2 linked regions of the Homo sapiens genome follow. The protein of the gene in region 1 purifies or fractionates together with the protein of each later gene. This does not show direct contact. Each region holds a gene or a part of one and is shown in the gene's direction. Other genes may lie near its edges. The genes, in order: AGK and RAB18.

Region 1 (3,655 bases):
AGTTATGGAAGGGTTTCATAGACTGTAATGATATTAATGTTGATACACCTTGGGTATATCAAGCTAAACAAGTCTTAGAGAATAATGAAAATGATCCAGCAGATACAATAGCATGTCATAAGAGAATTAGCTGTCTTTATTTTTATTTGAGAAGGATTAGCATAATATAGAAAGACTATGTATATGAGTTCCTTAAGACATGGCAGGACCCTTGCCTTTTAATACATATTTGAAAATTATAACCATGTTGTTCAAATCCCAAAATACTCTGGGAGGAGATAGGGGCCAAAAAAAGAAAATAAATCCTTTTTCATGGATGGTAGAATTAGGATGTTTCCAGAACCAGCACTGTGCCCATCGTAGTAGGCACTGAATTTTTTTTTGTAAAAGAACATTAGGATAGCTCCTCAAGAGAGGATGTTGTTTTCCATAATGAACTTCTTCTGGTGCTGCTGTGAGACCTCCAACTCCAGTAGGCCACTGATGTGTTTGAGCTGTTCTGAATATTCTCTTCTCCCCAGGGAGCAGGGGGCTCTTTTAGCATTGACAGTGAGGAGTATGAAGCGATGCCTGTGGAGGTGAAACTGCTCCCCAGGAAGCTGCAGTTCTTCTGTGATCCTAGGAAGAGAGAACAGATGCTCACAAGCCCCACCCAGTGAGCAGCAGAAGACAAGCACTCTGAGACCACACTTTAGGCCACCGGTGGGACCAAAAGGGAACAGGTGCCTCAGCCATCCCAACAGTGTCGTCAGAGGGTCCCCAGGGCATTTTCATGGCAAGTACCCCTCTGCCCCCACTCCAGCAGTGCTTCCCAAAGTGTGCTCTGTCACCTGCTTTGCAATCGGCTTCCATTAGCGCATGTTTTATTTTGGTGTGACGGTTGGCCCTCCTAAACACGGACTTTCCTCAGGCTGGTTCAAGACGGAAAAGGACTTTCTTCTGTTTTCTTCCAAAGTGCAACCACAGTGGAGAGCCCACGGTGGGCTTAGCCTGCCTAGGCCCTTCCATTTCTCTTCTTTGACCGTGCTAGGAATTCCAGGAAAGTGCATTCCTGCCCTGGTGACCTTTTCCTATGTCTAGGCTCCTCCACAGGTGCTGCTATTTTGTGAGCTCCGGCTCCTGTTTAGCTTTTATTTCAGTTCTAACCTCAGTCCAGAAACATATGTGAGGTTGTTTCCCTCTTCAGCCACGGCTACAATACCGGAAAATGCTAGTTTTTATTTATTTTTTTAAGTAGTGCTTCCTAAATGGTTTGCATGAGAGCCACCTGGGGTACATGTTGAAAACTTATTTGGGGTCTACCCCAAACCTAATAACCCAAATTTGGGGATGGGGCCCAGGAATATGCATTTTTAAAAAGTCATCTGCCCTTCCCAGGTGATTCTGTAAGTTGTCCCTCAACTGTACTTGGAGAAATCGTGTTTTAAAGCAGTAGTCCACAAAGTATTCTGCTCATGTGCCCCCAAAAGTATTTTGAAAAATCATGTATACCCTCACCCATCTAAGTTGATATCTAAAATTTTATCTAAGTTGGTATCTAAAATTTTTCATGGGAAGTTAAATAGTTGACAAAGTATGTATTTGCTGGTGTCGTGTAAATATTGGTATTTTAAAATAAAAACTGTTACATCACTATTTTAAACATATCCAGTACAATTTAAATATCACAACAATTTGACACCCTTCATTCATTTATAAAAATAAATGAGCTAGTTCTTTAGTAGTTAAACATTTCAAATTGGCTTTTCTCCTTCTGTATTTCCATACCACTTTTCAGCCAAGAATCCTATCATAATGTAATCTATTATGCCCGACATCTTTTAATCATTCACCCCATTACTTCTTGTCAACAAAAAATATAAATGGAAATTTTTTTTTTAGCTCTTGCTTTAAGTGTTTGTTTGTTATCTCAGTCCAGAACCAATATTATCGTAATTAATTATTGGTATATAATGAAAACGGTATTAATTCTTGGATGATTAAAAGTTTTTTTATTAGAATGTTCTTTATCCTAATTAGTTCATTTATCCAAGAATACATGAATGTGATTTACAGCTGAGATGGGGTTCAACCTCAGCTGTATTCCTTGTTTCTGTATAGATGTAAGCACATAAATTCGATGGAATAGAATTACGTTAACAATGTTTTTACAGTTCTTTGGATTCCTTTGGCATTTTGACAAAGATCACAGTGCTCTATCATCAAGAATTATTAATGATGATCTATCAACTAACAAACAACTTGATTAGATTCTCCTTTAGTCTGTTGAAAGCAGAGAACTGAAATCCACCTGATTTACCATGGCTTTGCCAGCCAGTCATTAGCACCATTTACTTTTACTATCGCTGACATTTTCCTTTGTTCAGTGGCCCTGAGGTTCTTACACTCTAGGGGGCAGTGCACCACAGGAAGATAGATCAATGAGGGAGGATTGCGAGGGGGAAGGGGAGGAAGCAGAGCTGGCAGGCCTTAGCTACAGGCTCTCTCTCAGGCAGATCCCTTTTAAGATACATACACCATGCCCACACATCCCATGGAGAGAGACCAATGCTTTAGTAGATTACAGAACAGCTATGAAAAGTCCATGAATGAAGATCACAAAAAGGAAGGCTTTCTTATTTCATACTGTATTCTTCAGGGTGGTAAAATTTCTGCTTTTGGCAAAAACATAACAGACGGTTCCAAACATCAGCATAAAGATCACTCATCCCATACCACCCACAGGTAGGGAGGAAGGATGCTGTAGTATATGAAAACAAAAGTTTTCACCTGAGCTGAGAGCATTTAGCATATCGTGGTTCTGTAACAATATCAAGGACCAGTGCAGAATCTGGCTTTCTTTTCTGATAGGCTACCAGTGTGTGTTTATGTGTGCTCATTTTGTGGTTCTAATCATAATGGTACATATAATTAGGGAAGGATATGGAAGCCACTTTAGAATCTTATTCATTTTTAAATATAAATATGCCTTGTTTCAAACTTTGTTTTCTTGATTCAGGCTTTCTTTCCTGTGAGGGCTTGGTTTCCTTATTGTTGACTGCTTTGTTCTTTGCCTTGTCCTTCCCTATAAAGCCTGCATGGAAGACGTTTAATAGTGCAACTAAAAGAGAGTCAGCTGAGTGAGGCTTGTCAGCCAAAGCTGGAATGCTGAGCTATCTGGAGGAGATCCTAATAACCCAATTTGGGGATGGGGCCCAGGAATCTGCATTGGGAAGTCGGCCACCCTTCCCAGGTGATTGTTTAGTACAAACTTTTTGACAGATTAATTTCACTCAAATGCAAAGATTAATCCCAGCACTTTGGGAGGCCAAGGAAGGTGGATCACCTGAGGTCAGGAGCTCGAGACCAGCCTGGCCAACGTGGTGAAATCCCATCTCTACTAAAAATACAAAAATTAGCTGGGCATGGTGGCATGTGCCTGTAGTCCCAGCTACTCTGGAGGCTGAGGCAGGAGAATCGCTTGAACCCGGGAGGCAGAGGTTGCAGTGAGCCGGGATCGCACCACTCTGCACTCCAGCCTGGGTGACAGAGCAAGACTCCGTCTCAAAAAAAAAAAAAAAAAAAAAAAACCGTAGTTGCTTTCTATTAAGATAGGGTTTTAAATAAAGCTTTTTTCCTTTCCCTCACAGCTGTTTTGCACATATCTGGATGCAGT
Region 2 (3,920 bases), on another chromosome or scaffold:
TGTAAGAACCCCAAAGAGATTACATCTCTTATTTATCCTACTAGAAATTAAAACTGAGAAAATTTCAAACATGTTAATTTACTTAAAAACAATAATAAACCTATTACCAGTTAATAGAAATGTTTATGAAAATAACTACTTTAAAACAGAACAAAATTGAGAACAGTGGCAATGTTTTACATTTTAGGAAATCCCTTTAATATCTGGCTTAATATCATAGAAAACCAGTAAGTTCACATATCTTGTTCTGCCTTCAATCTGTTTTGCTATTACATGTTATTAATATATAGCCTCTGGAAAACTCCATTATATTATCATCAGAGAATGTGCATGAAAAAATAACATATTAACTATGAAAATAGTTTGATCTTGCAACCCCCCTGAAAGGTTTTCAGGGATTTCTAGGGATCTCGGGACCCCAGGGCAGGAGAGCTTGACAATACTGTGAACCTCATAAATAAGATCTTTTTGTCATAATGAAAAGTAAGCTAGATAGACTTGACTGAAGTTTCAAGGGCTATCTGATGAGAAGTGGAGGTTGTTTCATTGACATTATTCTCTAAGGTTAGGAATGGACTCTACAACATTCATTCAATTAATTCATTCAGCATACATTTATTTAGCACATATTATGTGCCATGAAGTACTCTAGATACTGAAGACATACCAGTAGACAAAACAAAATATCCTTGCCTTCATGAGACTTCTAATAAAGTAGTAAAATATATAGTGTATCAGAGAGTGGTTAAATCCTATGCAGAAAAACAATGTAAAGAGGTCTAGAGAATGCTGGAGGGATTTGCATATTTCAGTAGAATGGACAGGGAAGGCCTCTTTAAGAATGCAACATTTGAGCGAAGACCTGAAGGAGGAGAAGCCATTGGGATATCTTTTGAAAGGGCTTTTCCAGCTATTTAACAAATTAATTTCTTAACATTTGAAATTTTATTTATATGTAGTCTTTAATCAAATATCCATTGTATATGACATTAGCTGCAGGTATAAGGAAATAAGACAAGAGAACTGAGGTTTATTGAGTGCCTGCCATGTACCAGGCACTGTGCTAAGTATTATGAATGAGGTTTGGTACCTTCACTAAGATTTACAACTTAATGCAGGAGGCAAGGTGTAGACATACACTTCCTGCAGTATGGGTGTAGCAGTTCTTATGAGGAAGGAGAGTTGACTTGAAGTTGCACCGCCAGAAGTAATGCACCTGACCTACCTGAAGTCTACGCCTCCCTTTCAAGATGAATTAGGGTGCAGAGGGTGCTCTCCACTATAACAGAGGGGAAGCCAGCAAGATAATACCTGATCACACCTTTTATAGAGCACTTTGGTTAACAACATGTCTTCACAAATTAACTCACTTAACCTTCATAACAATAAGAAGCAGATGTTCTAAGAAGTGTTACTGTGTCTCTCAGAGATGGAGAAAGGCTAAGAAAGCTGGGTAGTATGACAAGGCAGTTATAAGGTAGAGCTGGACCTAAATTTAAGATAATCTGCTTCAAGCACAGTGCTTTTCCCACCGCAGTGCAGCTGTTATGAGCAGCTGCCGAAATAAAACAGCTTGATATTCTCCTGACTGAGTCCTCCCACTGACTCAAAAGGAGGGTTAGGTTGAGGCTGGGGCGGAGCTAGACCTCAAGAAGAAGCCAACAAAGTCACACACAGCGCTCCCCACCTGCGCTTGCGCAGGGGAGGAACACGCAGTCCGGAAAAACGCCGGGGATTCTGGGTCGCGCAGCCGTGGAGCTACCTCAAGGCGGAACTGGGGAGTCCAGGGCTTCGGCAGCCTGAACACCCGGTGTGAAAGGAAGGTGGCAGACGTGGAGCGGCGCGCATGCGCAGCAGCTCACTCTGCTGAAGGGCTGAGAGGCGCACCCGGGCGGCCAGCTGGGCTCGGAGCGGAACGGGGTCAGGATGGACGAGGACGTGCTAACCACCCTGAAGATCCTCATCATCGGCGAGAGTGGGGTGGGCAAGTCCAGGTGAGGCGGAGGTGCGGGTCGTGACGAGGGTGGCTGGGCTCTTTCTGCCCCGGTGGCTGCTGTCTCCTGGGCCGCGACGGGAACTGTAAACTGCAGCGGCGGGCTCGGGCCGGCTCCGCTCGCGCCCTCCTCGGCCTCTGGGCCGCGCTCTCCCGCGACGTTTGCTTTCCTCTCCCCACCCGCGCCTGCCTGGTTCCCGGCCTTTGCCAGGCCCAAGTTCTCTGGGTCGCTCTCCCTCCTGTAGCGCCGAGAAAACACCATTCCGAGGGCCGCCGCTCGGCCGGCAGGTTTGCTGCGCGGAGCTCAGGGCGTGGCGGGCTGGTTTGGGCCCGAATCCGGCCGGGGGCGCCTTGCCTCGAACCTCTCGGGGTTCAGGCTGCCTGCCACCCCGAGACCCGGGAGACATAGCTTTCCCACTTGAGGGTTTCTGTGGGGCCTTCTCTAAATACATAATGTCCTCGGGAAGTTTCGTGACGCCTTAGGTCCCATTCCTGGCCTGTTTGGGCGCAGCTTAATGTCGATTCTTTTACTTTTTTATTAGTCGGCTGTGAAAGAACTGGATCTTGTGACTGCTGGAAAATTTCGCTTTAGTGTAAGGTCCGAGTGCTTCAGCCGTGGGCCACCTTTGAAAATAAAATGTAATTGTTATTTCTCATTTTGCCACATCCTGTGGAGACAGAAGATTAGTGTTGTGCTTTCATTTTTTACTTTTTCCTTGGGGAAAATAATATTGACAGTGGAGTTGAGTATAAGGTAAGACATGGATCTAGGTGGATGTTGCTAGAGGGCTGTGATTTCATCCAGGTCTTGGAAGAGAGTTCTCCAGCTGATGTCATTCTTGCCATCTGATTATGAGTAGGTTATGTTCAAGGCCGTCCTGATCCTTAAACCACATTTGCACTCCAGGGGCTGTAATCAGTTTCATATTTTAGCTATACCTTCTGATACACGTATCTTTCAAATAATTTTTTGTATTTCATAAATTGAAATAGCCTTAATTCTACAAACTAGAATGAAAGCTCTCCTCAAATAACTTGTAAAAGTCACTTCATAAAGTCTTACTTTTTAAAAGCTTCTTCAGAATTTGAAAGCTTATGTAATATATTCTGATATTATTTACTTATTTATTTATTTATTTTTTGAGACGGAGTCTCGCTCTGTTGCCAGGCTGGAGTGCAGTGGCGCGATCTCGGGTCACTGCAACCTCCGCCTCCCGGGTTCAAGCGATTCTCCTGCTTCAGCCTCCCGAGTAGCTGGGACTACAGGCGCGCACTATCATGCCCAGCTAACTTTTGTACTGTTAGTAGAGATGGGGTTTCACCATGTTGGCCAGGATGGTCTCCATCTTTTGACCTCGTGACCCGCCCACCTCGGCCTCCCAAAGTGCTAGGATTACAGGCGTGAGCCACCAGTTTGACAACACATTTTCATAGTGTTCCTCATGTAATGTCCTCTGTGTCTACTGGAATGAAGGATTTGCACATACCAAGGAATAGAATAATGAAATACTATGAGTTAGCAAACCAGCATGATTTGTCTGTGTGTGTGTAAAAGGCATGAGTAAAATTATTTACATGATCATCTATTATTGCACATACATATTTGAGTGTTAAAAAGTTAAACGTTGTCTTAATAGGAATTTCACAGCCTTGTGATCTTTCTTTTTCTTTTCTCCTTTTTTCCTTGAGATATCGTTCTCATTTAAGTTCAGGCATATGAAATTAGTGTTTTTGAAGTCAAGAATGGTTGGTTGTCATTTCATGTAGTTCAACCCAATACATGGTTGGTTAGCACTTTTTCTAAATGTATTGCATGGATGACAAGTTAGGGTATGTTAAAATTTTCTGGAAGGTTAACTGGAGTATATAAACAAAATTCCTCTGCTCTACCCGCTGTTTTTTTGAGACAGGGTCTTATTCTGTCACC

Evidence for each region.
Region 2: the proteins of AGK (region 1) and RAB18 purify together in Homo sapiens (affinity purification with mass spectrometry; 2 studies listed by BioGRID and IntAct, with this or other methods). This does not show direct contact.

The regions. Positions count from the first base shown.
Region 1 is NC_000007.14:141,652,266-141,655,920, forward strand, and holds the end of AGK (acylglycerol kinase, mitochondrial isoform 1 precursor), read left to right. Parts: intron 1-521; coding exon 522-659; 3' UTR 660-2,979; downstream 2,980-3,655. UniProt on the Homo sapiens protein: Lipid kinase that can phosphorylate both monoacylglycerol and diacylglycerol to form lysophosphatidic acid (LPA) and phosphatidic acid (PA), respectively. Does not phosphorylate sphingosine. Phosphorylates ceramide.
Region 2 is NC_000010.11:27,502,444-27,506,363, forward strand, and holds the start of RAB18 (ras-related protein Rab-18), read left to right. Parts: upstream 1-1,860; 5' UTR 1,861-1,926; coding exon 1,927-1,994; intron 1,995-2,001; exon of another isoform or gene 2,002-2,281; intron 2,282-2,535; exon of another isoform or gene 2,536-2,649; intron 2,650-3,920. UniProt on the Homo sapiens protein: The small GTPases Rab are key regulators of intracellular membrane trafficking, from the formation of transport vesicles to their fusion with membranes.